4 linked regions of the Homo sapiens genome follow. The protein of the gene in region 3 purifies or fractionates together with the protein of the main gene of each other region. This does not show direct contact. Each region holds a gene or a part of one and is shown on either strand. Other genes may lie near its edges. The genes, in order: WDR75, WDR43, NOL7 and IPO5.

Evidence for each region.
Region 1: the proteins of NOL7 (region 3) and WDR75 purify together in Homo sapiens (co-immunoprecipitation; 3 studies listed by BioGRID and IntAct, with this or other methods). This does not show direct contact.
Region 2: the proteins of NOL7 (region 3) and WDR43 purify together in Homo sapiens (co-immunoprecipitation; 3 studies listed by BioGRID and IntAct, with this or other methods). This does not show direct contact.
Region 4: the proteins of NOL7 (region 3) and IPO5 purify together in Homo sapiens (affinity purification with mass spectrometry; 3 studies listed by BioGRID and IntAct, with this or other methods). This does not show direct contact.

Annotation. Positions count from the first base shown.
Region 1 is NC_000002.12:189,436,715-189,444,491, reverse strand, and holds the start of WDR75 (WD repeat-containing protein 75), read right to left. Parts: upstream 3,019-7,777; 5' UTR 3,000-3,018; coding exon 2,914-2,999; intron 1-2,913. UniProt on the Homo sapiens protein: Ribosome biogenesis factor. Part of the small subunit (SSU) processome, first precursor of the small eukaryotic ribosomal subunit.
Region 2 is NC_000002.12:28,890,546-28,897,674, reverse strand, and holds the start of WDR43 (WD repeat-containing protein 43), read right to left. Parts: upstream 3,009-7,129; 5' UTR 2,977-3,008; coding exon 2,752-2,976; intron 1-2,751. UniProt on the Homo sapiens protein: Ribosome biogenesis factor that coordinates hyperactive transcription and ribogenesis. Part of the small subunit (SSU) processome, first precursor of the small eukaryotic ribosomal subunit.
Region 3 is NC_000006.12:13,610,962-13,618,354, reverse strand, and holds the start of NOL7 (U3 small nucleolar RNA-associated protein NOL7), read right to left. Parts: upstream 3,021-7,393; 5' UTR 2,997-3,020; coding exon 2,731-2,996; intron 2,644-2,730; coding exon 2,583-2,643; intron 1,893-2,582; coding exon 1,834-1,892; intron 586-1,833; coding exon 554-585; intron 298-553; coding exon 216-297; intron 1-215. Other genes in the region: SIRT5 (NAD-dependent protein deacylase sirtuin-5, mitochondrial), read right to left, coding at 6,490-6,565.
Region 4 is NC_000013.11:98,005,675-98,012,697, reverse strand, and holds part of IPO5 (importin-5), read right to left. Parts: intron 6,569-7,023; coding exon 6,350-6,568; intron 4,640-6,349; coding exon 4,556-4,639; intron 2,818-4,555; coding exon 2,685-2,817; intron 2,596-2,684; coding exon 2,474-2,595; intron 453-2,473; coding exon 356-452; intron 1-355. UniProt on the Homo sapiens protein: Functions in nuclear protein import as nuclear transport receptor. Serves as receptor for nuclear localization signals (NLS) in cargo substrates.

The sequences.
Region 1 (7,777 bases), on a different chromosome or scaffold from region 3:
AATTCACAGCACCATATAACTGTGGGATGCCGCAGAATGGGATGCAAACAGAACTGGACTGAGAGTCAGTAATATCTAATATGGGAACACCAGGAACTTACATGTATACCCACATGCCCCTCAGAACAACCTACTCAAGTACCTAGAACAGAGTTTTTGTTCTAGTTTCAAGAGGAAGCCGCCAAAATTCCACAAGTCTGTCTTTTTATGATTTTGGCTTTCTTGATAAGCACCTTGAGGTAAAATACAAAATTATTCCTCTTTGTATAAGGCAGCCAATCCCTTGTGGTACCTTGTAGATAATATTCAAATCTTTGCTGAGTTCATTAAAATCCTGTCATTTGTTAGATAAATGGTTTTAATTATTAGCTTATATATAGATGACAAAAAAAAAATCTCTAAATCTTGACCAAGTTCTCCAAACTTCAGTCCTGAATTTCTACCTACTACTAGCTATATCCACCTGGTTGTTTTACAGGTACCTTAGAGTTAATAACCCCGAACTGAACTCTATCTCCCCATTGACACTGACTGTGAAATCACTCTAAAACCCTGTCTCTTTTCTCCATGTTCAATATTACCTTAGTTTGGGCAAAAGTGATTTCTTGCTTGGATGCCTGCACTGGTCTTCTAACCCCTGGTCTCTATTCTTCCAGAGTCTTTTCCTGCCATCTCTTATACCCTATGCTGCAATTACACTGACTTTACATAGAAGGCTCAATCCCCCCAGTTTTCAAGGCCCCCAGATTTCAAGCTTGTTTGCCTGGCATTCCATCCCCCAGTATTACTGGTGAGGCAAACTCTTGCCATTGCTGCAAGAACCACTACTGAAGGTAAAACTGACTATGTAACTCCCTCTTCTATGCCATCACTGTACTTTATGTACATCAGCCTACCCAGCTCTCATTTCTCCACTCACCAACATGTATCATAGAGTTTTACAGTTTTCAGGTTAACATTATTGAAGAAACACAATCAAATTACAACTGATTACCGCCGTCCCCTTAAAGAATTAAAAAACCATTCTCTTTGGTCCAAACAACAACCAACAACTGGCTGCACGTGTCCTTTCCAACCTCATTTCCCACTACCTCCCTTAATATATACCATTCTTACTAGCTAACTGTACCAGCCTGTTCAACAGAAATCACTTCTGTCTTTCTTGCTTACACTGTCCTCCCCACCTGAAATGTCTTCTGTCCATATTCCCCACTTAAAATATCATCTAGGCCTAGCACAAATGTCATTTGCTCAGCAATCTTCTCCGTCCTTCTTAGTTTGGGAAGTAATCTCTTCTTATGAGCTCCTTCCTACAGGACCACAGTAAGAAAAATCTGTTACTGAGTATTCCTTTTCCTCACTAGACTGTAAGCTCCTCGAAGGCAGGATCAATATTAAAATTATCTTAGTTTTTGTCACTGCAGCATGTTATACATAATATATAGTTGACAAGTACTTAAAAAATGAATTGTTGGGCTTAGCAAATCAAACACACAATGGACCTCATTATAATGAATAAGGTATAAGAACAGTACTGGTTACATGGATATGAGTCCGAAGCGTCACAGTGTGACAGCCTCTTAAAGCCTGTTTCTTCCTTTGATTCATAAGATCAATGTCAACAAAGCCACAGGACTCATTTTTTTTTGGCTTCTAAGGCAATTTATAAAAGCTCTTTCAGTCATGCTTGCATTACCTTCAACAACTACCTGTCGTACACTCATATGCAGAATATTGTGGGGGTGGGCCGGGCACAGTTGCTCACTGTAATCGCTGCACTTTGGGAGGTTCAGGTGGGCAGATCACTTGAGGCCAGGAGTTCCAGGGCAGCCTGGCCAACATGGCGAAACCCTCTCTCTACTAAAAATACAAAAATTAGCGGGCGTGGTGGCCCGCGCTTATAATACTTGCTACTCAGGAGGCCGAGGCACCAGAATTGCTTGAACCAGGGAGGCGGAGGTTGCAATGAGCCTAGATTGAGCCACTGCACTCCAGCCTGGGTGACAGAGTGAGATTCTGCATCAAAAAAAAAAAAAAAAAAAAAAAAAAGAATATTGTGGAGGCTACAAACTTTCATAAAATACTATCTCTACTCTTCTAAGGCAGAAAGGGTTTTTTGATTTTATTAAGTGCCACCCTACCTAAAGTTATTTGAAAACCTGACAATACAGTAATAATGATTACAGCTACATACATTGAGCCATTATGTGCCGGGCATTGTTGTCTGTAGTTTTAACATATTGAGGCATTTAATCCTCCCAATAACCACGTGAGATGAACTAAATATTGTCCCCCTTTACAGATGATGGCAACTGAGGCAAAGATTAAGAAACTTACAAAGGTTTCATAATGTAAGAAGTGGATTTTGAAGCCAGGGAGTGGTTTGGTTTCCAGCTACACTGAGAAAAGAGACCAAGTCTTAGCGTATTTTTATCTCATAAAGAATCTAACATCTGTTTTCATGTAAAGTTCCGAAAAGACTGCACTATGCTTCATGCACTATGCTTCAGGAGTGAGGAGTGGGTAGAAAAAGCGGAATAGTTTTAGGTTTTAGTCACTCCAAAACATGATTCTGTACGAAAGAGTAGGTACTGCAAAGGTAGTGGCATACACATCCACCCCTGGACCATTTTCCAGCCGCCCGAACACCTTCCAGATCCTCGACACGGAGACCGGCTCCAGGGCCTTTATCTACCTGCAGGTAAACTGTCCAGGAATCGGGGGACGCAACCCAATCTGCAGTGGTAACGGGACCTCCCAGGTACCCTGGGGATCCCCCACAGGCGCGTGCTCTACCCAAAGCCGATATCCGCCAGGCGGGCGAGTCCGAACGCGACTGACAATTCCTTCTCCCCGACCCTCGAGAAACTCACGCCCCGCCCCTCAGCCGACAAAGCGCGGTGCCCCTCATACTTAGAATCTGCAGAGAACACAGCTCTCCTAAAGTTCAACTCGCTGCCGCCACAACGAACCACGCGGATGTTCTCCTCCTCCACCATCTTTGCGCAGTAGCGGAATGGCCAATCTCTGGTCCCGCCCTGAACTTCCTTCGTTGAGCCGGGTAATAAGGCTGTTCCCAGCCCACAGAACCCACCCCCGGGCCCTTCTAGGCCTGAGACTCGGTGGTAGGACTCCGCTTCCGTGCAGGCACCTTTTGTGTGGGCAATGTCAAACTAAGACACTTGTAAGAAAAGGTGAAAGCAAAACAGAGATTTAGAGACAATCAGTTTTTATTATATACCTATACACAATTATTTAATACAGACATATTTCTCTCAGGCCTTGTCAACCTGACTCTATGGCTTTTTCCGCCAGAAGGGAAAGGTGGCGTATAGTGTACCACGTGACCTCCAGTCGTCCCACCGGAGGCGTCGCTTTCTAGTGTCTGTGGTGTCGGCGCTGCAGGATGACGCGAGCCTCTCGCGTCCCTGGTTTTCTCGGTCGCAGCGTTGAGTTATTGGGTGGAAAGGTAGCTTTCTCTTCCTTGTACAGCTTTTTGTTCCTCTCATTAGCCGTTCTTCTGTTCTTGTGAACATCGCTTAGGTTACTACAGAATCTCCACAGTCCTAGGGCCTAGCTTTCTTCCTTTGGAAATCTGGCTCCTACTCCGGGATTCTGGTGCATCTTCCGCAGCGTTCAGTGTAGCTGCTCGGGCTAATCTGACATTCGGCCAGTCCCGCCAGGTTTCAGGGCGCTGGTCTCTGGTTTCCTGAGTTTTACCTTTTCCCATTAGTGAATAGAATCTGTGGGTTAGGAACCCCTAAAATCTCAACATGTTTATTTTTGCCAGTTTATCTCCAGTTTTCCTTTGTAAACTTACACGTATCATATTCTTGGACCCTGTATATTATGTTGCCTATTTTGATTTCGCTTCTTGATTTGTGGATTTACCACAAAATTACCAAGGTCTCAAATATAGTCACATGTCACATAAGGATCTTTCAATCAATGCATATAACATGGTGATTCCGTAAGATTATAATACTGTGTTTTTACTGTACCTTTTATGTGTTTAAATACACAAATACTATTCTGTTACAATTGCCTGCAATATTGAGTACAGTAACATGTTGTTCAGATTTGTAGCCTAGGAGCAATCAGCTATAACGTACAGCCTAGGTGTGTAGTAGGCTGTACCATCTAGGTTTGTGTAGGTACACTCTGTGATATTCACACAATGATGAAATCACCTAAAATGCATTTCTTAGAACATATCCCCATCATTAAGCCACACATGATTATACCTATAAGTTTATTTATGGTGGAGAAATACAATATTCACAAAGGTCAAGACATATCCTGGGACAGCACCACTGTAAAAATCAGGGATAAATTTACTTTTTACTGAGGAGTCTAGCTTATTAAAGTGCTCAAAACTTTATTATTTGGGGAGCCAGAACTAGAAAGGGAGATATTTAATAATTTTGGTTTATCTCAAGCTGTAACCAGCTTTCTCTTTCATGACTGTGATACCCTTTGTCACAGTGGATGGAGTGTAAAATATCACTTTTGATTCTGCAGCCTTAACCTCTTTTTGTTTAGTCTCTTGATGTATGCACAATAAATCTTTTAAAGACTTTGTTGGGTACTTTGTAACCTGATACAGGCTTTTCCTTAGGGCCTGAGCCAAGAAACAAAATAAATATTTTCACTCAAATTAGTGTGACTTTAGTTGTATGTTACTGTATGGTAACTTTAGATTTTTCAGAAAAGAATCAGAAATCCTGATATGGACAAAAACTAGCTGGATTGATAAATGTATAGGAGGATTATTTTACACAGAGTTTTAATTTACTGAAGTGCCCAGAAAGATAAGTCATTTGTATTTTGATTTCTTTTTACATAATTTTTAAGGAACCAATCCCACCTACAGCTGTTTAATTAATAGTGCGTTGTCTTTATCATGTAACAAGAAGGCTGAGGTAGGCAGAATAGGGCTAGTGCAGTGGATCATTCATGCCACCAGGGACCTGTGCTTTCTCTACTTTGTTCTTTGTGTTATTGTCCTTAACCATATTGGTTTTGTCCTTATGCTCACAGTTCATGTTCCTTTCAGTTAGAAGAAATAAGGGAATAGCAAGAAAGAGCATAGCCTATATACAGAAGGAAAAGGATTTTCCAGAAACACTTATTTGGCATCTTCCATCCAGGAAATATTTACTAAGTGCCTAGTATATGCCAGACATTCTTTCAGGCTCTGGGAATACTGGAGTGAGAAAAATAGTTAACAAAATCTGTATGTTACTGGACCTTACCTTATCATGGGAAGAAACAAAAACTTATTATACTTTTGATGTATTTATGTGCCAAGGGGAAACTCAAAGTAGAAAAGAAAGTGATTATAAGGGTTTGATCACCTTTATTATGGGTTTTCAGGGAAAGCCTTACTGAGAAGGTAACATTTGAAATAACCTGAAAAGGTTGAGAGTGTGAATAAGCATGGAGCTGTTTGGTGAAAGAGTCAGCCAGAGGAAAGAGTATTCCTTTCCATGTTCAAGATAAGTCAAGAGGCCAGTGTGGCTGGAGAATAATCATCAAGGGGGTATAGTAAAAGGTGAGGTCAGAGAGGTAATAAGAGGCCAGTTCATAGGGTCTCCTAGATCATTGTAACAGCTTTGGGTTTTACTCTGAAATTGAAGACAGTGTAGCCTTTGTGTTAAAAAGTGAAACGATTAGGCTAATTTTAAAAATTTACATACAATAAAATCTGCTTTCTTTGATATCTATGATGCACAAATTATCGTATCCACCATCACAAATAGGATACAGAAGAATTCCAGCACCTCAAAGAATTCCCCAGTATTTCTCCTTCCCCTCCCCAAGACCTATCCCCTGGCAACCACTAATGTTCTCCATCCCTAGTTTTGCCTTTTCCAGAAAGCCATGTATAAATGGTATCATATAGTATGTAACCTTTTCAGTCTAGCTTCTTTCAGTTAGCATATTGCATTTATGTTATGTGCATCAGTGCTTTATATTGCTGAGTGGTATTCCATTGTATGGCTATTTCACAGTTTATTTGTTGAATGTGTTTTACCCCCAGGTTTTAGAAATTATGCATAATACTTCTCTAAACATTCATATGTAGGTTTATGTGTGAACATAAGCTTTTATTTTTCTAGGATAAATACCAGCAAATGAGATTGCTCAAATCATAAGTGTATGTTTATTTAAGAAATTGCCAAACTCTTTTTTTCCCAGAGTTACTGTACTATTTTTGCATTTCCATAAGTAATGTATGAAAGTTTTAGTTACTTTACACCCTTGTCAGGACTTGGTATTGTCAAGGTTTTTTTTTTTTATTTTAGCCATCATAATAAGTTTGTAGTGGTATTTCATTGTGGTTTTAATTTTCACTTCCCTAATGACTAATGCTGAGCATCATTTTATATCCTCTTTGGTGAAGTGTCATCAAGTCCTTCACGCATTGCTTTATTGGTTATCTTCTTGTTGAGTTTTGAGCATTCTCTTTTAAAATTTTTATTTTTATTTATTTTTTATTTAATAAAATTTTTAAAAGCTTTCCCATTAGTGAGAAGGATTTAGTCACATTTTTACTGCTTAGTATCTTCATGTATGTTTCTGTTCCCTTCAACAGATATAAACACCATGTACAGTATTTCACACCACTACCCTGCATAATGTACATAGGAGACATCTTCAAGCAGATTACATCGATTTTGTATTAATGTCATGAATTACTTAGTGATAGGCCCTTGGGCTCTGCTATGTTTCCTCATTCCCTAATGATGGTGCAATTTTTATCTCTTCTTAGGTTTCCTATGATGCTGAAATCCTTATCTATCCCATATATTTTTCATTCTGCACTTTCTCTCTTGTATACCTCTGCCCTAGGAACCTCAGGCAGTTAAGTGATGATTATCACAAGCGGGTTATGTTCCATTTAAGGTTAACAGTTCTCATGGTTATAATTACACCTTTTCTGTTTTGGCTATGATTAAACCCATAGATTAAAATTGTATGATCTCTTGTACCCAGTGGCTAAAGCGAAATTTTAGAATGGTTTGAAATGTTGTTGCACAAAGTGTGGTCCGTGGACCAGCAACAGCAGTGTCACCTGGGAGCTTGTTAGAAATGCAGAAACTCATGCCCTACCCAGATATGTGGGATCAGAATCTGCATTCTAACAAGATCTGCAGGTGATTCCTATGCATATTTAAGTTTGAGAAGTACTACTTTAAAAAATAATCTAATGGCAGCTCTATATACAAATGGCTCTCAGTTGGTGCCTCCCACGGGCCAGCCACGTGCTTGATGCTTCATATATTTCTAATTATCTCAACAGCCCTGGAGGTGATATTTCTGTTCTATAGGTGAAAAACCTAAGACTTACTATGCTAACTTACCCTAGATCATTCTGCTTATAATCAGTAGCGCTGATCTTGGAACACAGTGGTGTCTGCTTCAAAGACTATCTCGTTCAGACTTTCTCTCTCTCTTTTTTTTTAAATCAACTTTTATTTTAAGTTCCAGGGTACATGCGCAGGATGTGCAGGTTTGTTATATAGGTAAATGTGTGCCATGGTGGTTTGCTGAACAGATCAACCCATGACCTAGGCACTAAGCCTAGCATCAAATTAGCTATTCTTCCTGATGCTCTCCCTCCACTCGGCCACCCCTGCGACAGGCCCCAGTGTGTGTTGTTCCCCTCTATGAGTTTATGTATTCTCATCACCACCTCCCACTTATAAGTGAGAACATGTGGTGTTTGTTTTTTTTGTTTCAGTGTTAGTTTGCTGAGGATAATGGCTTCCAG
Region 2 (7,129 bases), on a different chromosome or scaffold from region 3:
GCAAACTGCCAATTACTAAACCAAACATAGAATACTTTTCTTACAAATTGATTTACCATATTAAATGCCAAATTAAATGGTAAAACGAGTCCAGATTCACTCAATAATAACATTTATTAAGCCACTTATTACATACTAGGCCATACTACACCAGTCACATACATTGCCTAATTTGATCCTGAGGATCCTAAAAGGTGGGTGATGATACCTCTATTTCAAATTTGAGAGTACTATATGTCATCATATAGCAGGACCTTAACAAAATGCTGGAAAGTGGGTTCAGAGCAACATCCTTTTCATGCCTCATACACTAAGCCTCAAAGATGTAAAATAAAAGGAAGGGTTTAATAAGATGAGAGCACCTTAACATGTGCCTTTTTTTTCTAAGATATCTTGTTACAGTACATATGACTTTTTAATTTTATACCATAATATATGTGCAAGTTTGTTTTAATACAAGAAAACTGTCTCTCCTTAGTTTATAAGTCAAACTGATGCTCCAAGAGGACACACCCTCAAAGTAGGGAATGTCTCTACATTCCTTCCAGCTCTCTCAGTTCTGTGACTCAAGATTGAGAGTAACAAAATCGGGGCACTTGACCAGGAGTTCGGGGCACCATGACTCTAGAGGCCACACTCCTTTATTGGTTATTAAGGCTTGAGTCAAGTCATTTACCTTTCTTAGCTCTGATTTTCAATCAGTTTTTTTAAAATGCAATTAATTTCAGGGGATTCCATAGTCATGTGGTTAAAAGGAGACAGTGCAGATAAAACGATGCTGAAACCTAGAAAAAAATTTTGTTTAATGTAGCTCAACTCTCGTTTGTCAATGAGGTCCTCAAAATTAAAACAACTTGCTCAATATGACAAAGTAAGTTTTGAGTCTGGGCTATGAAACCAAATCCAGTTATTTTTCTAGTTTACCATAGTGTTGCACATAATCCAAAACTATGACTTTTAATATGAGATTAGGAAATTTCTCTTGGGCATACAATGCAACTGAAACTCAACAGAAAAGCAAAGTGGGTGACATTTTTTCCAACCTAATATTAACTATCTGTTGCAGATAACCAAGAACCGAGCTCTTAAGGACCTGAGTTCTAATCCTGGTTCCATTTTTTACTTTATTCAAGTTGCTTAGTTTCCCAGAGTTTCTGTTTCTTTCCCCGAAACAAGGCAGAAAGTTCCTTATCAACACTTCAGGACTAACCACACAAATATCAGATATTAATAATACTTAACACTTAAAGCACTTACCTGTCAAGAACTATTCTAAGTGTTCTCTGCATTATTAAATATATTAACCTTCACAACCACTCTATGAAGAAGATATTATTATCCTCATTTCATAAATGAGGAACCAGAGGGGCAATTACCACTATGAAGCAGAGGCTAGAATCAAATATAGACAATATAGCCAGCTTGGGTCCACGCACCTACCTAACCACTGCTCCGTATTTCTCTCAGCATTAGTATTACTATCACTTTACAGGACTGTTAAAATACAACCACAGAAAACTTTGAAAATAAAAGATAAGCAGAGCGCTGTAATTTTAACAATAAAAACTGATTTTTTTTTTAGTTTTATGTTTGACTTATAAGCCCTGATAGGTTTATTTTATGAATCAACAGGATAAACTATGAAAATGTAGCTTAAAATTTGAAAAATATCTAAACATGCCCAAAGTATAGCAACTTATATGTATCCCTTTTCCCAACCCAAAAATTTAGCAGGCTTCCCAGGTCGTCAGAGAGAGTAAGATCCTAAATAGCTTTTACAGTTCTCCACATTGAAACAGCTCACATCACACACCTCAGGATACCTGATGTTTCCAAATCACTTTGCAGTGATTCGGTTTGGCTACTCTGTAAACGCAATAACCACGTGCATGCTGAGTTAGAGAGATGTAGCTGAGTGACTCAACAGTGAAAGGCATTTACCTGACACGGGTCCCTAACAATGAAAAGCTCTGCCTAACTCGGCAGTTTTCCATCTAAGGGTAATTTCATCTGCACTCATAAAACATTCACTAAATCAAGCTACTACTTCACTTAACCTCCACATCCTAATACAGACTTCAGATTGGGGTGGGTGGGGAGCAGTGTGATCGGCTTGAAAGCGGGGCGGGAGGGGCGAGCAGATGTTAAAATCAAAAAGCAGTGAGTTCAAAAAGCTGAGAATGTAGAGGTGCCTGGGAAAGGCAAAAGTTAAGAGTTGAGAGTCCCACAACCTGGACGGGGACGAGAACACGTGGTGAGCCGGCACCCAAAGGGGGGGCAGGAGGGGGAAGGTCCGGAAGCAAGTACAGACTAGTCCATACCAACTGCCCAGTGCAAAACTGATGAGCCGGATCACAGACAGAGGAAAGTTAGATAGTCCCAAGATGGGGCTCTGTCAAAAACCAGAACTCTGATGAGCCAAGGCCCGGCAGAAGGAAGCCGCCCCAGGGGGACCAGGGGACTTGGCGAACATGGCTGCCCGTCAACAGTGGGGCCCAGGCCTCATTGGGCCAGCCGGCAGGGCTCGGATACGAGGCCGGCCGGGTCGAGCTGCGCCCTCCCTCACTGCCCTCGCGGCAGGCCGCACGCGGGGCTGGCGGCTTGGGCCCTGAACGCGCCGACGCCGCCTCCAAGCCTTCTGGCCCGGGCCGCTGAGAGCCACGCGCGATGCCGGACCACGCGCCACCCGGCCCGGAGGCCCGAAGCCGAGCCCGGGAAGGCGCCCGCCCCGCGCAGTCCCGCTCGCTTTACCTTGGCCTGCAGCCGCGCTGGCGCCCAGGCCAGACAGGTGCAGGTACCACTGAGGTGCGCGGAAGGCACGTACTCCTGGTGCAGCCGGTTGTTGGCCGTCTCCCATACTCGTAAGTGACCGTCGGTAGAGGCCAAAGCGAAGTAGGCCTGGCTGTGCGGGGAGAAGGCGCAAGGGACCCCAGCAGGGGCCAGGGGGTCGCAGCTACCGCCGCCGCCCGCCGCCATTGCTGCTCTGGCCCCGCTGCAGCCACGTGTTCGTCCGTGCGCAGGCGCACCGGCGCGGGGCGGAGCCTGGAGGAGGAAGTGAGGCGGAGGGAGCGCCGGGGGCTCAGGGAGTGGATCTTCGCGTCGCAGGAGAGCTTCTGGCGGATCCGCCCTGTGGACGGTGGCCCGCTAGGGCCTGTCGCTATCTTGTTCTGGGCGGGAGTGGGAGTATGGGAGAAAGTAATTGTAGAATTAAGATCAAGTCCTGTTCCTTTAAAAAAAAAAAAAAAGGGGGGGGGCCGGGCGCGGTGGCTCACGCCTGTAATCACAGCACTTTGGGAGGCCGAAGTGGGCGGATCCCCTGAGGTCGGAGTTCGAGACCAGCCTGACCAACATGTAGAAACCCCCGTCTCTACTAAAAATAAAAAAATTAGCCGTGGGCTGGGCGCGGTGGCTCACGCCTGTAATCCTAGCACTTTGGGAGGCCGAGGCGGGTGGATCATAAGGTCAGGAGTTCAAGACCAGCCTGGCCAAGATGATGAAACCTCGTCTCTACTAAAAATACAAAAAAATTAGCCGGGCTTGGTGGTTGGCACCTGTATGTAATCCCAGCCACTCGGGAGGCTGAGGCAGAGAATTGGTTGAACCCGGGAGGCGGAGATTGCAGTGAGCCGAGATCGCGCCCCTGCACTCCAGCCTGGGCGACAGAGCGAGACTCGTCTCAAAAAAAAAAAAAAAAAAAAAAAAAAAAAAAAAATAGCCAGGCGTGTGGCGCACGCCTGTAATCCCAGCTACTCGAGAGGCTGAGGCAGGAGAATCGCTTGAACTCGGGAGATGGAGGTTGCTGTGAGCCGAGATCGCGCCATTATACTCCGGGCAACAAGAGTGAAACTCCGTCTTAAAAAAATAAATAATAAATAAATAACAATTTTTTAAAACTTTAAAGAAAATGATAAGGTAGAACGAAAGGTTTGAAGGAAATCTTCAGCCGAGCGCGGTGGCTTACACCTATAATCCCACTTTGGGAGGCCGAGGCGGGCAGATCGCCCGAGGTCAGAGTTCGAGACCAAGCTAGGCAAAATGGCGAAACCTTGTCTCTACTAAAAATACTAAAATTAGCCGGGTGTGGTGGTGTGTGCCTGTAGTCCCAGCTACTCGGGAGACTGAGGCAGGAGACTCCTTGAACCCGGGAGGTGGAGGTTGCAGTGAGCCGAAATCGCCACGCCACTGCACTCCAGTCTAGGTGACAGAGCGAGACTGTCTCAAAAAAAAAGAGAGAGAAAAGAAGTCTTCACTTTCAAATTGATAATGATTGTAACAACTGCTTCCGTTTCCCCCTATTCAATTCCAGGCTGTAATCATTTACAAAATAACAATGTATTCAGTTATAATAATGTAAAAGTAATGATCGGAACAACTATTCCCTCCTGTTTCTCCAGATTTATCTCATGTTGCTACATCAAATAGACATTTTTAGGCACACGCCCATAGTCTGGAGGCTGAGGGAGGAGGATGGCTTGAGCCCACGAGGTCGAGGCTACAGTGAGCTATGACTGCTCCACTGCACTCTACCCTGGGTGACATAGTGAGATCCTGTATCCAAAAAATAAAGGGTAGATTTTTATATTTCTCCTAAATATTCACCAAATCAATGCATTCTAATTCAAGGAATGCTAGGTACTGTTCAGCCCACACAGAGCCTATTGCCTGCCAGGAAAGATAAAAACCACTCTCATGGCCATGGGAAGGCTCAAGCTTTTACAGCTACGGAGCAGCATGGTAAGATTTGCATTTTATTGTTTTCTTGTTTGTTTTTGTGTTTTGAGACAGAGTCTCACTCTGCCCAGACTGGAGTGCAGTGGCACAATCTCAGCTCACTGCAACCTCCACCTTCCGGTTCAAGTGATTCTCCTGCCTCAGCCTCCCAAGTAGCTGGGATTACAGGCGTGTGCCACCACGCCTGGCTAGTTTTTGTATTTTTATTAGAGATGGGGTTTCACCATGTTGGCCAGGCTTGTCTGGAACTCCTGACCTTAAGTAATCTGCCCGCCTCAGCTTCCCAAAGTTCTGGGATTATAGGCGTGAACCACTGTGCCTGACCAATATTTGCATTTTAGAAAGATTACATGGAGACAGTGTAATGAATGTATTAGAAGGAAGCTAGGTTGGAGGCTCGAAACCCCAGGTGGAGATGATGGTGAGTGGCTTGGAGAAATAGCGATGCAAGGAAGTTTCAAGAGTGTTTATTATGTACAATGAGCCGGATTTCAAGTGGCCAAGGGAGAGATAGAGAAACGGCCAAGGATTACTCATTGAGCTTTTACAGGGAGAGACTGGTTGGTGACCCAATTCACTTAGGATAGTGAATCCTGGAAGATTTTTGTGCAAGAAGATGATAGTGTCTTTAGTCTGGGAATGCTAAATTTGAGACATCTAATTTGGCACTTGGATTCATTCAGTTACTCAAACAAACTGAATGCCTGCTATGTGCCAGGCACTGTTTTAGGGTACCAGGAATCTACCAGTGATCATGAGAGACAAGATTCCTGCTTTCATGAAGCTGACATTCTAATCAGGGAAGCACATAATAAACAAACAAAGAAAACTCTATTTCAGCTAGTGCAAGCTGCTATAAAGAGAAATAAAGCCGGAGGAGGGAAAAGAGTTTAAGTATTGAAAGGAATTAGGGACAGCCTCACTCAGACCATGCAATATCAGAAGGAAGAGCAGTCAACCTGGGGAGAATAGCAAGTGCAAAGACTGAGGCAACAAAGACCTTGACTAGTGGAAAGAAAAAGCTTTGGAGAAACTTAGGGTAGATAGTGACAACTAGAAAAATCAAAGGTAGCAGCTGAGTTCAGAGGGAGCCAGACTATTTAGTACCTTGTAAATCAGAGTGAAGTATTTGGATTTTATTATAAGTATGATAGAAATAAGCCACTGGAGAATTTTAATGTTTTTTTTTAAGAGGTGGGGTCTTTCTGTGTTGCCCAGGCTGATCTTGAACTCCTGCACTCAAGGAATCCTCCTGCCTTGGCCTCCCAAAGTGCTGGGATTACAGGTGTGAGCCACCACATCCGGCCCCCTGCAGTTTTGAGCAATGAAATAACATGATCTGATTTATATTATTGAAAGACATCCTGGCTGCTAGATGAAGTCTGTAGGCAAGAATAAAAGCAGAAAGACAAGGTAGAAGGCTGTGGAGTAGTAGTCGGGACAAGGACAATGATTGGTAGGACTCTGATGAAAGCAATGAAGGTAGCGAAAAATGATCAGATTCCAGATATAATCTGAAGTTAGAGCCAACAGGAATTGCTAAATGAATTGACTGTGAAGGGTGAGGAAAACAGATGAATGAAGAGTGACTCTGATGCCTGGGCAAATAAGTGAATAGTGATACCATTAGCTAAATTGGGGAAAGAGTTTTGGGTGGAATGGAGATCAATCTTTGCACTTGCTGTTCTCTGCACACTGACTGCCCTTCCTTCTGACCTTGCAGAGCCAGAGTGAGGCTTTGCCTAATTCCTTCGAATACTTAAGCTCTCATTTCCCTTCTCTGGCTTTGTTTCTCCTTGTAGCAGTTTGCACTAGCTGAAATAAAGATTTTTTTTTTTCTTTTTCTTAGATGGAGTCTCACTCAGCAACCCAGGCTGGAGTGCAGTGGCACGATCTCTGCTCACTGCAACCGCCGTCTCCTGGGTTCAAGTGATTCTACCGTCTCACTCTCCCGAGTAGCTGGGATTACAGGCACCCGCCATCATGCCCAGCTAATTTTTGCATTTTAGTAGAGACGGGGTTTCACCGTGTTGGCCAGGCTGGTCTTGAACTCCTGACCTCCGGTGATCCGCCTGCCTCAGCCTCCCAAAGTGCTAGGATTACAGGCGTGAGCCACTGCACCCAGCCTAGAGATTCATTTTTAAATGTGTTTATTATCTACTTCCCTGACTAGAATGTAATCAGTTTTGGACAGTTAAGTTTGAGATACCTACTATACATTCAAGTAGGGTTGTTCAATAAGCAGTTAGATATATGAGTTGGGATTTGGAGAAAACATCACAGTTAGAGATATGAATTTGGGATGCATTAGCATACAGCTGCTATATGAAACCACGGGACTGGAAAGATCATGTTGCGTGTTAGTATAGGTAGAAAAGAATTTAGTCCCAAGCTGTGC
Region 3 (7,393 bases):
AATGGCGTGAACCCGGGAAGCGGAGCTTGCAGTGAGCCGAGATTGCGCCACTGCAGTCCGCAGTCCGGCCTGGGCGACAGAGCGAGACTCCGTCTCAAAAAAATAAAAAAATAAAAATAAAATAAAATAAAATAAAATATTTTCCCATGTTAGCCAATACTTTAACTCTCTTAAAGGTCTCCTTTACATCCCAAATGAAACAAAAGACTCATTACCTGACAGACTGTACTTTTTGTACTTTAACTTTCTTGGAGTCATTTCCTTTTTCACAGTCTTCATTTTTCTTTTGCAAATTAACTAAAAAATAGAGTTACATTTTCTAATTAGCATTCACGTAAAAATAAATCAGGAAATTTACTGGAGTTCACTTTAAGCATCCACTACACACCAATGTGGATGCAGTTTTTATTTGTATGAAATACAGGGAATAGGCCCCAGCTAACCTTGGCCAGGCCCATGCTGGCTTTCTAAGGGCCATTCATATTTGACTGGAAACATCTGCAAGTGCACTTGACACTTACATGAGAAGTTAGTTAAATTAGAATAGTCATACCTTCTTTCACCTTTCCTGGCGATTTCTTGATGCTAAGGAAAAAAAACAAAACCACTGACTGCAATGGCAGTAAAGATTACTCAAAACATGTTATATTATTTCATTTGCCTTTACAAGTAAGACACCCCCTTTCATTACCAACACCCTCAATTTCTACTCAGGAGCTCTCATCAGTTTGGAAAGCAATAGTCACTCCCTAGTACACTGCCACCAACTCTCAAGCATTGGAAGATCTTCACAGTTAAAATCTGAGAGCCTATTAGCAGGCTTTCAAAGCAGCAAAATGCTGTGGGCAATGGAGTTCAAGTGAAACACTTGTTCAGAACAAGTTATAAAGTATTTGAAATATGAAGTGAATGGGAGTAGGTCTGCCTCATTTCATTTGGAGAAATCACAAAGGATTAATTTAATAGTTTAGGCACAGGAGACAGGGAACAGCCTCAAGGGGGCTGTGGCCCAATGGAGAGAGAAATGTAAATGGACAGAATACAATACAGAAGCATTTGCACAGGAGAAAGGCCACACAAAAGCGGAAGTGATGGGAGGTGGGGGGGGGCAAATGAGAAGGTAAAGGTGACACTTGAGCTTGGTTTTAAAAGATGAAAGGGAATTTGCCACCAAATAGATTTGCTCTTACGTTTAATGTATTCAGGATCTGAGTAACTCTTTGGTAAAGTTTTTTTACTGAAAACTTGAGAGTCACTGGCCTAAGCAAAAGGGGGCTGAATTTCTGAATTTAAAGCCTTAAGGGGAGAAAAAGAGGATAGAAAAAAAAAAATTTAGAAGGCTAAATTTAGTAGGGTTTGATCAATTCCCAAAGACGACTATAGCTTTTCGCTTTAAACCATAAAACACCAAAGATGCTAAATGAAGTGGGGAACAGGAAGGACAGGTTGGTGGCAGGTAAGGCAAGTATGGGACAAATCAAGTTTTCAGAGCCTGTGGATAAGTGCCTGCTACCCCACTAAATGATTCAAAACACTTTTTATTCACCACCACCCACTATGCCCTAGTACAATGACAGGCAGTCAACAAAATGTACTGAATGAACACAATGGGATCAGGAATTCAAAAGCTAGCTATGGGAATGAACAAAAATAAATGGTAAAATAAGAAGTAGAACGTTACCTCCGTCTTTCCCATCAAATTCATATACCAAGGTAGCTTTTGAATTTGGGTTCTACAATTCCTTCAGTTATATGGATTCAAATAAATGTACCAGTATATAATTCAAAGATGGGTGTATATAAGCAAGTAATATAAAAAGATCCATTACTTACTTAGTCTGTGAAGCTGTGGTTAACTTCTCCAAAATAGTGTCTGGAAGGAGTTTTCTTTTCTTTTGGAATGAAAACGTTTAAAATTAATAGAAAGTCATGTACATAGTATGTCCGGAGTTGCTTCTGAAGTTACCGCTTTTAAGAATGCCCTACATCTAGGCAAAGAAATGAATTAGGCTGGAAACTGCCCCCATACCTCTAAGCTATGGGAAGACCGGGTCCACAAAACTCCACATTCTCTGAAAGACTTGATGAAAACTAGAAAGGGTGCCCACGGTATTCTAACCCTCAGGTCACTGTTATAAATTGAAAGCAGTTAAGTAATGTCTGCCTGGAGCCAGCTCTCTGTGTCGAGTATCAGACAGCAAAGCAACCATACACTAAGTCTGTACAGCCCTTACAGTTTACAAATCACCTCATTTAATTCTCACAGCAACCTCTTATTTTCAGTTGGTGGACACTAAAGGAGACGAACTTTTTTTTTTTGAGACAGGGTCTCGCTCTGTCGCCCAGGCTGGAGCGCAGTGGTGTGATCTCGGCTCCAGGCAGCCTCGACATCCCGGGCTCCGCCCACCTCGTCCAACTAAAGTACTGCCGCGCCCGGCCCGAGCATCTTTCCACCACTGTCAGAGGCAATCTTGGTGACTGTTTCCCCACTCCAATATCCTGCCAACCCAAATTACATCCACCATAGGAATTCTCCCTGAGCCGAGTTGTTTTAATAAGACACCTCCTCCCTAGCCTCTAACCTTCTGTTCGATGAACAGCTCCTCGCGTCGCTTCCTCTTCTCCTTCAGGAGCGTTTTATCCCTGGGAGGAAGGGTGATAAGTCAGCAAAGGGAAGGACAAGCGGGACGAGAAAGGGCGGTTCTCCCCGCCGGGCAGCGGGCTCCGAACCTGCGCACGGTCTCCCGCACTCGCCGCTCCTCTTCTCTCGCTTCCGCCTGGGCGCTGGCGAAAGTCAGCTCCTCCGGGGCCTCATCGTCAAACTCATCGTCCCCTTCCTCGTCTTCCTCCAGGGGCTCGGCGGCCGCGCCGCTGCTGGGCTGCCCGAGCAACAGCCCGTGCTCCGCCTCCTCCTCCTCCGAGGCCAGCTGGCCCTCGTCCACCATCGCCTCCGCCGACGCCGGGGCGCGAGACGCTCGCGGTCGGAGCTGCACCATGGCCCACGCAGCGCTAGACCGTCTGACCTCTGACCCGGAAGCAGCTACAAGCGGAGCGCAAGCCTACTTTCATCGCCCCCTGCAGGTTCGGAGGTCCTCAGGACGGGTGGGGCGCATGCGCGAAGGGAGGAAGGGCGTGGCCTGTAGGCAGTGGGCGTGTTTCTTTCCACGTGGCCAGCGCAGGCCGCCTTGGAGCCGGATGGACCCCACGGAAAATGCTCTGCCGGCGAAAGCGGCTGGCAATGGGGTTGATTTCAAGGCAGGGAAGAGCCATCGCGCTGCCCTCCTCGGCTGGGATGGCGAGACAGGGCTGGCACGGCTCACGCTGTCCGGTGCTCAGAAAACCGGTAATCGCGGGCCCGAGGCGCTGCTCGCCGCCGTTTTTTGGCCCTGGGTTCCGTCGAGTGGATCCAGCTTGTCAGTCTTTGTGTAGATTTGGCTGCGTTCGCTCCGCACTTCGGAGGAGGTGGCGTTTCATGGGAAGAAATGCGCTCTAGCAGATGGCCGCCGTGGCCAGTCAGCCCTGCTGCCACCGACGAAGACGCGGGCGACAGACCTGGACTCTAAAGAAATCTGCACAGACGTGCCCGGCGCCCTCGGCCTTCCCAGCTCCGCGGCCGCAGCGACGCCGGTTAGGATGTCGGCCCTGTGGGAGGGGCGCCCTTCCTGGTGCCGGGCCCTAACCCACGACCTGGAACAGCAGCTGGCCCGTGGCAAATGCTGAGCATATCTCCTGAAAGAATGGCTTCGCCGGTCCCTAGAGAATGCACCCGAGTTTTGTGGTATATACACATACGTACTTTTTTTCCAAGTATATTTTATTTCTTGGCAAACATGGCCCTTTGTGATCGCTGTGTTTCTCTCCTCCCATCCATTATACAACACTAAGTGATTCATCATTCTTTGAACAAATCAAACTGTTTCACACCTGCCATGCATTTGTACCGACCGTGCTCTTCCCTCTACTGCCGCAGCCCCCCAGGTAGAAGTCCTTTTTATACTTCAAAAATTCCCACCCAGGCAAATTTCAAGCACCTTACCCCTACCCCATCCCACTCTGCCCATCTCTAATTGCGCTGGTCTGAACCCGCACAAATGTCTGTGTAGTTTCTGCACTTCATAACAGCTTATATGACAGTTGCTCCAGCCATTCTGTGAACCCCTGAGGGGAAGGGCCAGGTCTTGCTAGTCATTTTATTTCTAATGTCTATCATCTGGTAGATGTTTAATAAATGCTAAGTTGAATAATTCTATCTTACACATATATTGTATTTTTAATTCTCTTTTCATGTCTTCTGTTTTAGAAGCAATTCTCAATTTAAAAACGACAAAACCAAATAGGAACAAAAATGATAAAACTTGAAAACAACAACAACAAAAAAAGCTGCTGAACCAGAGGTTCAGTATGAGAGGAATTGCAAAGAACAGTTTTGAAATCTCTAGGCCTTAGTCAGATAGAAATTACAAATCAAAAATATAATCAGACTCCCTGAGACACTAACACTAGGAAAATGAATAAAGTTAACTTGGAGCAGCCCAAGAACAAACTTATAAGTGCATGATGGTATTTTATGTGCAAAACTGCTTTATAAGTACTATAAGACTATTACAGGTATTACCAGTGCCCTCAGTGTAAACTCCTTGGCCCACCCATGTAAAGTGTACATCGAGCCCTCAGGGTCCCTGACTGGTTCTCCAGCCGCCCCATAGGCTATGAGCATCCCCGTTCCCTACACAAAGGACCACTGGGATTTATTAAAGGTTATGCCTTGCAATGCAGTACAAAGTTTTATATGATAGTGTCTTGTTGCCTGTTTCTACAAAAGCCAAGGGTGTAACATTAAATGCAATTTTGCAAGGGGCTGAGGTGATGTGGTCCAAGTATGTAATCACTTCAGGGAGCCATATGTGACCTTCATACACTGTTGATAATGGCCATGCCTCCCAGTCAGGCCTGTGACACCTGCTGGACAGCAGGCATTCCAAGGCCCCTAAGCACTGAGTTAGCTGGTAAAGGTTAAGGAAAAAGCTGTATTCTTACTACTTTACTCCAAGGTAGTAAAGTGTATGGAAGATGTACCTGACAGAAATAACTTAAGCATCCCCTGAGAATGACCCTGTATGGCAGATGCATCTGACAGCAATAACTTAAGAAGTGAGGGTTGCCACGTGGAGGCTGCTGAGGGGAGGGTGCTGAGTGAAAGTGCTATGTAAACTGCATGCTTTTTATAAGTGGTTGCAGTTCTGTCCAGCCCGCGGCCACTGGACCACCCTGTAAGGTTCCCCAAATAAACCCTATGTTTCCTTCACTAGCTCCAGGTCTCTTCTTTGGCCTCTTGAACCTGGTGCCATCCCTACTGAAGTTAACAGAGGTCTGGCCCAACCTAAGGGCATCATTTTTTAAAGTCCCATGGAAAAAACTCCCAGCAGAGTTCAGCATCTGGGAACGGTTGGCAGGCCCCACAGGAACCACAGCTTCTGCCTTTATGATGCTGAGAAACACTTCACTGTTGACTTCCCCCATCTAAGGGGGCCAGAGCTAAATTTTGGGCAGCTGTGTTTATCCTGGGGGTCCACATATTTGCATCATTCTTTCTTCTCATCGTGATGTTCTACCTTGTTGGTACTGTTCTCTTCCTTCTTTGTGTGAGTTCCTGTTGTGAGCTTCCCCTTGTTCACTGAGGTAATGTAGCCAAACAAGGTTAAAAAGCCCCCAGTAAGCCGGGTGCGGTGGCTCATGCCCGTAATCTCAGCACTTTGGGAGGCCGAGGCGGGCAGATCACCTGAGGTCGAGAGTTTAAGACCAGCCTGACCAACATGGAGAAACCCCGTCTCTACTAAAAATACAAAATTAGCTGGGTGTGGTGGTACATACCTGTAATCCCAGCTACTCATGAGGCTGAGGCAGGAGAATCTCTTGAACCCGGGAGGCGGAGGTTGCTGTGAGCTGAGATCGCACCACTGCACTCCAGCCTGGGCAACAAGAGTGAAACTCTGTCTCAAAAAAAAAAAAAAAAAGTCCCTAATAAAGCCATATCGTGGGGTAATGTCTTTATACAATAAATTACCTACTGTAGAGTGTGATTTTATTTTCCACTAAAACTTGTGCAAAAATCAGAATAGTAGGGTTTTTACCCCTTGACTTCTACTTTGCCCAGATAACAAAAATATAATCAGAATAACTATTTTTTTTAGACAATCTAATTTACAAAATTTTTCCCTCCCAATAACCAACCATACACATCAAAGATACCTCACGTTTCAGTTCAAACCAAATAATATGAATTAACTTTCCAGTTCTGTGACTTTTGAATGTGGGTGCTCTTTGCTACTTCTAAACCCCCATCACTTATCAACAGGTTGGATTCCAGCGAGGGAATCAGAGGCTATTTTTAGATTGTTCAGTACTCAGCTCACCACCCATAAGACCATTTCTCCTCTGCGTGTGGCCTAGTTCTTAGATATACTGTAATTTCTTTCTTCCCCAGGACACTTAAGAAACAGTTTCATTTTCATGACAGGCAAGGGCTTCAGGAAGAGTCGTTCCACAGGGTCCCTGGAAATGAAACCTGAAAGAGAAGAAGCAAATACAGCAGTTTTGAACTACAGGTTAGCAAAATGAATGCCCTACTTCAGCAAGCACTTATTTCTGAAGTAATAGCCGAAGTAAAACCCAAATTCTCATAAAGATGGTATTATGAATTTCCATGCCCACTTCTTTCAACTAGCTTCTAACAACTCTAGTTATAACACTTCACTATGGGCTGGGCTCTGTGACTGGGGGAATTTTGAGAAGCAAATGTCTAGAATTTATGTGCCATAAAGAAGAATTTTATTTCAAAGTGTAAGAGACATGATTACAAAGTGTATTCTGTTTGTTTTTTTCAAATCCTGAGAACCTATGCAAGTAAAGTGTATTTTGGGACTGTACTGCCAAACTCATTGAAATTGTAAGTATAAAATATACATGTATGTGTGTTATATATGTATTTTATATACATATATATGTTTTATGTGTATCTATATAACACGTATGTTTGGCATGTTATATATAGACACAATACATACTTTTTTGTGTATATATGTGTGTGTATATATATGTGTGTGTGTATGTGTGTGTGTATATATATATATATATATATATATATATACACACACACACATAAAACATTACAGCAGCATTCACAGGTAGTACTGAGAACAAGAGAAAAAAATACCCATGCACTATCTGACCACTAGGATCTCAGCTAAGTCAACGAGCCTCTCAAACCACCTGTTGAACTTTCTGACTAGCTTCTGAGGTGTAGTTAGAAAAAAGAGAAAGAGGAAGGAGAAAAAAGAAGAAAAATCATGGACTTTTGTTTAAAAAAACTATGAATAAGAAGCAAAAGCAGGAC
Region 4 (7,023 bases), on a different chromosome or scaffold from region 3:
AGAGTGAGACACCATCTCTTAAAATAAAAGTCTTATTTTCTTAACGTTTACCAAAAGATATTTGGGGAAAGTAGCAACTATATATAATTGTAATCATTTGCTAATTATCCTTAAATCCTTAAGTGGGCCACAGAAAGCTGACAAACATAGGATAGGTCACGTTTTCTTTTTCATGTTTTGGCACAAGTGGAAACAAAGGCACATGCAGAGAACCGAGTTTATCACCTAAGAGTACACTTAGTGCAAATACAAACAATCATGGTGAAGTCTACTTCAGTCAACACTGTCTAATACTCCAAGAAACTACAAGTTTACTAAATCTAGACATGTTTTGTATTCAGAAGTTGTAGGATATCATCGTGGAAATAAAATTTCAGTAAAGGGACCATCAGTTTGACAACCTGTTCGGTGTACTCCACAAAGCCTTCCTTTAACTCCTTAGCATAGCAAACCTGTAACCAAAGTATTGGGAGGAAATAAAGATTCATGTTAGTCTTCAAGCATTAATATTAACAAACAGCAAAATCATAAGGACCACAGGAGGTTGTATTTTGACTAGAACTACATTTAAAGTTGCATGTAGAACTGTCAAATTAGTCTTCCAACTAAAAAGAGTCTTAAAAGAAGGGTCATGAAATGATTGTAGTATTGGTGAGTGACAAAAAGAAAAAAAAAAAGGAAATTATTGTCGTATATATTGTCCCTTCAAAGGCTGGAATCATTCGTATTCCATTCAGCAAGTTTCAGCAATACATCAAACAAAATGTATCACTTAATTGAGGAAAAATCATTCTAAAAGATACAAAAAACCCTGAAACCATCAGTTAATTGAAGCATTTACTTTGTAAATCTGTAGAAAACGCTTCTGTTATTTTGTATTTTTAAAAAATCATGGCTGGGCACGGTGGCTCATGCTTGTAATCCCAGCACTTTGGGAGGCTGAGGCTGGTAGATCACGAGGTCAGGAGTTCGAGACCAGCCTGGCCAACACAGTGAAACCCCGTCTCTACTAAAAATACAAAAATTAGCCAGGCATGGTGGCGGGCACCTGTAATGCCAGGTACTTGGGAGGCTGAGGCAGGAGAATCGCTTGAACCCAGGAGGTGGAGGTGGCAGTGAGCCGGGATGGCACCACTATACTCCAGCCTGGCTGACAGAGTTAGACGGATCACGAGGTCAGGAGTTCAAGACCAGCCTGGCCAACATGGTGAAAACCCGTCTCTACTAAAGATACAAAAAATTAGCCAGGCATGGTGGCGTGCACCTGTAATCCTAGCTACTCGGGAGGTTAAGGCAGGAGAATCACTTGAACCCAGGAGACGGAGGCTGCAGTGAGCTGAGATCAAGCCACTGTACTCCAGCCTGAGCGACAGAGTAAGACTCTGTTTCAAAAAGCAAAACAAACAAACAAACAAACAAAAAAAACCCCAAAAACCCAATTGTTTCATTCTCTTCTACTACATCTAAAGATTAATTCTGTTTAAAGATGTTATTATTTGTATTTGCTTTCCAGTTGAGAGAAAAAACCCACAAAAATCCAAAGTGTTTATAATTTATAGATACTAAGTATTGAAGATGACAATAAGAAATACATTAATTTCTAAAATCTAACTTTAAAAGTAAGTATTGGCCAGGTGCAGTGGCTCATGCCTGTAATCCCAGGTCATGGCAGGCGGATCACCTGAGGTCAGGAGTTGGAAACCAGCCTGGCCAAAATGGTGAAACCTCATCTCTACTAAAAATACAAAAAGTAGCCAGCTGTGGTGGCAGGCGCCTGTAATCCCAGCTACTCGGGAGGCTGAGGCAGGAGAATCAACTGAACGCCAGAGGTGGAGGTTGCAGTGAGTCGAGATCGTGCCACTGCACTCCAGCCTGGGTGAAAAAGAGAGACTCCACCTCAAAAAAAAAAAAAAAAAAGGATTATCCTTCACTTTAAAACGCATGCTCATAAAGAAAACAAAAAGAAAACTAGGAACTAAACATGCATATGCACACCACAAACACCATAAGGGATAATAACCGAACATTTTGATTTTCCTGCCATATCTGTTTTTTTACACAATTGAAATCATACAAGTTTTGTTTCACATTAAATAGCATGAACACACTTCTGTTCATTTGTTTAAAAAACATTCCATGGCCACCTACTATAGACTAAGAACAAAACCAACAAAAATCCTTCCCTCATGTAGCTTATAAACTTTTTGTAATGGCTGTATATTACTCCAAGGCACAGTAATTCATCTTCCCACTAACAGGAATTTGGGCTATTTGTTGTTTTTTGCTATTTAAAACAGCACTGATAATGAAAGGTTTATCCATACGATTTCTTTAAAATGGAAAGAAAACTTTACTTTTTAAGGAACATATTACTGGCTCTCCAAAGTAATTTCTTTAGCAGCTATTAAAAGCACTCATATGAAATGTATATAAGATGTAAAATAAAAGTTTAGTAAAAACAGTGCTCTCTTACCAACATCTGGCAAGCAGTTGATTTTTCTTCTAGTCCTGCAGTTTTAATACCAAAGCTTTGCTGATCTCCAAGGTTCACAAATTCCCAACCATCATCATCACTCATATTCTCCATGTCTTGGGCTATTAACGGAGAAGAAAACAAATGCATATGAAAAATAATAACAAAGAGAGAACTATTATAACCGATAGCTCCTTCTAAAGACACCTACTATCTAAAAGGGCTACTTCGGGCTTAATTGAAGCCGTCTTCATTAAAGGCCCCATAACCACTGGAAGGTATTGCTGAAATTCTTTTCCAAGGATTTTGCACATTCTGGCCCATGCTGAGATCATGTAAGAGATCTGGGGAAAAATTTTAAAATTAAAATAGATTAAAAAACAATGGGTAAACGTGATAAAGAAAGCCATTTCCTTATTTCATAGAAACAATGTTTTATTGATATGTTCACAGTACTTTAAGCAGTAAGAGCATTTCTAAAGGTTATGTACTTAAAAGGTTCAGAATCAATAATGAAATCCCTGTGAACTCACTACACTGGGATATGGACAGCAGGTGAGGCAAAACACAAAGACCAGAACCTTGGGTATTTCTTTCTACTTTCAGTAAGTGATAATGGTTTTCTTTCTTAGCATCTGAATCATCTAAATGAAACTAATCACCTAAACAAAACCAAACACTTCATCAACTCCCAGTTACAAATTTTTTGAAGACAGAAATGTATTTTATCTGACTCTGTATCCCTATTGCCTGCCACTCCATTCATTAAACATTTATTAAAACCCAAGAAACAAAACATCCTTTTCTCTTAGCTGTTATAATTTTCTCATAAGTGGCTGAGTATATTTAAAACACCTCTTCTCCTATTACTGTGTTTACACAGACTTTATCATCTGCAAATTACCTAGAGAATCTGGTTCCATTCACCACCCCTGCAACCTAGAAAGTGATTCTTATCCCCTGATATCTGTCATCCACCTACCTATTTATCTATTGAGCATGCATGGACACATGCCCCACCTCTTAATGATTTTATATGTAAAAGTCCACCCGCTCTTCAGATAGGTACTGGGTGTTTCTCACATGCCAGGCATTAAACTATATGCTGGCTGATACAAAGGTGAGCAACACGCCTCGTCCTTACCACCCCTCCCTACAGCTTACAGTCCCCTCAGTCTCCCTACTGTCAGCAGTCTGCTAAGTATCCCTCCTGCCTGTTATCTCTGTACATACAAAACATACATGTATATTTGCATATCATTTTGCAAAGAAAGCAAACAACAACAAAACATGCTTTCTTTGCAAAATGGTATGTTTTCCTATTTAAACTATTACAGTGTGGCAATGTAAAGTCAAAATTTAATTCAACAATTATTTATTGAGTGCCTTGTTATATGTTAGGCATTGGGAATACCATCAAGATATGACAAACATTTATGATGTTACTATAACAGTGTTGGAACTGCCCACCATTGAGACTGAGCAGATCAGGAAAATCTTGTAAAGGATGAGAACTGTGAGCAAGCGTTAGCTGGGTATGTATACCTATGTGTGTATGTGCGTGTGTGTCGAGAGGCAGGGGTTCCTCCTAATGAAATGCCTTTGTCTGTTCGTTGGCGGAGAGGCAAGCAGTGTGTCCTGAGATTCTTGGGTTCTGTATTTTCTGCCAGGGGAGGGAGATCATGCAGCCTTCAAAGGGCTAGGAGACACCCAAATGGAGATGTCTATTACATGTTGGATAAATGAATCTTCAATTCTGAAGATCTGAAAGTTGCAAGCACACAGAGGAAACCGGAAGCCATGTCTGTGAGTGACACTGCTCCACAGGAGTGAGAAGAGAGCCTTGGATAGAACCCACAAACACCAAAACTTGAGTGAGAGTCACAGAAAGCAAGAGCAACCTACAACAGACTGAGAAAAAGTAGCTTGAGAAACAGAAGGAAAATCAGTGAAGAATGTCTCTGCTAGCAGGGGTTGATAGTATGTCAAGAAACCTATCACTCCTTTTGTTTTAAATATATTGAACCATGTGCTGTCCACAACTCATTAGCGGATCAAAGCAAATGCATTAAGACCACTTACCTGAGGATCATCATCTTCCATATCATTGAAGTCTGTCTGGGTCTTTAACAAAAGCTGCATCACATCTGATGCATCCTGCATGAACTAGAGGAAAATATGTAGAGACACACTTGTTGATACCGAATTTTGTTTCTTGTGTAATTAGCAAAGCTTTGCCAAAAAATCGACTACATTGCCCACATAGGTCATAACTTTCATAGATAAACTATCATATTGAAAAATTCTCATCTATATTGTGACAGATTTAGTTCACTTTCTAGAAAAATATATTTTCCACTGAAGGGCAGGGAACTACAGTATAAAGGTACTTCTAATGGCATCAGGTGTTAGTCTATGGCTTACGCATTTCAAGCAGTAAAACTGAATTCAAATTCAGAAAGAAAATTTTAGATTGTTTATAGAATTCACTGCATAAAATTTTGTCTATGATTTTCACTTAACTCTTTGCAGTTCTGGTAATCTCCATTGTATAAACAGGCAGCGTTTTAAAGAGACATTGAAAGCCAGATATATAGAGTATGGGACATACAAATATTTTATTGGTAAAAAACATACCAATGTTTTAGTGGTCAGCGTCTCACAGAAACCAGTTCCAAATATAAATTAATACTGATGCTGGTTTTGAAGAAGGCAAGACAGAGCTTCTCTGTTGATAATTCTCAGGGTCAGAACATGAGGATTCAATGACAGAGAAACTTCTTTTGCATTAGCTTGAACAATTCTGAGATGTTGGCTGAGAAACACACTGGCCAATGGTCCTTGGTAATTATTTTCTGAAGATCTATATGCATAGATTTCTCTCTTAGAACACTTGATGCATTTTAGATTAATAGGAAAGCAAGTGACATGTTTCCAAGCACATATTTAAAGGGAACGAACATGGATACTGACTTCCACACACCTCCCACGAGATGCACTGTGTGTGGTGGGGAAAGGAGGAGGCATCAGGAGCACAGCTGAGCTAAAAAGAAACCTTAATATTAACAATGAAAAGACGGGCTGGGCGCGGTGGCTCACACCTGTGAGCAGACTGCTTGAGGTCAGGAGATCAGGGCTAGCCTGGCCAACACAGTGAAACCCCATCTCTACTAAAAAAAAAAAATACAAAAATCAGCTGGGAGTGGTGGCAGGTGCCTGTAATCTCAGCTACCTGGGAGGCTGACGCAGGAGAATCGCTTGAACCCAGGAGGCAGAGGTTGCAGTGAGCCAGGATCATGCCACTGCACTCCAGCCTGGGTGATAGAGTGAGACTTGGTCTCAAAAAAAAAAAAAAAAACACCAAACCAAACAAACAAACAATGAAAAGATGAAGGCAAGAATTTGTATATAAAACAGGAGCAATGTGAAAGGAGTAAGGAAAAAAACAAGCATCCAGAAAACCATTTTTCAGAAGGAAAAAATCCCTCTAGTACTCTCAATGCCTCCACAGCCAAGTTAGGTACAGTAAATTTAACATAATAGAAATTACAGGCCGGGCACAGTGGCTCACGCCTGTAATCCCAGCACTCTGGGAGGCCGAGGCGGGCGGATCACGAGGTCAGGAGATTGAGACCATCCTGGCTAACACAGTGAAACCTTGTCTCTACTAAAAATACAAAAAATTAGCCGGGCGTGGTGGCGGGCGTCTGTAGTCCCAGCTACTCGGGAGGCTGAGGCAGGAGAATGGCATGAACCTGGGAGGCAGAGTTTGCAGTGAGCCGAGATCGTGCCACTGCACTCCAGCCTGGGTGACAGAGCGAGACTCTGTCTCAAAAAAAAAAAAAAAAAAAAAAAAAAAAAAAAAAAATTACTTACTTTTTCCTTCCCAACAGCCAGACCAATGAGGCTAATGCATTCAATAGTTTTTCCTCTCAGAAGTCTCAGTTCTTTTTGAACCGCATTCTCAACGATGTGCTTCAGTGATGGCATAAATAAATCATAGTAGGGGACAAATTTTTCTTCTGCAGTATCGGCAACTGATGCAATGGATGTCACAACTTGTTCCAAAACTAACTTGGTGCCTTTCTGAATCAGCTAGAAGGAAGACACAAATTATTACCTCAAAGGAAAACTGGAAGAAGTATTTAAATTTACAATTACTACTCCCTTCAAGTTCTTGAATGCTTTTCTGAAACAGCAGAATGAGACCACCTCTCCAGAAGCAGAGACTGTAGGTTTTGGAGGAAATTTCTATAAAAAGAATCTATGTTGAACTATTTATGTGAGATTTTTTTTTTCTCTCTTCTATTAACACAACACCTCTAACTCATGTTAGTCTCATCTCAAAGCACAGCTAATTCTTGAGTACAGATACGGAATCAAAATTTTTGTGTTCATCAACTTTAATGCCTACACTTCATCCTCATTTTTTTCTTCACTGATTTCCTCTACTTATGATTATATTTTGTGCTGTCTTACTACGTCATAAAGAAAATTCCCTCTTTGGCCCCTTCCTTTATCTTCTAACCCCCTCTCCCCAGAAGATCGCA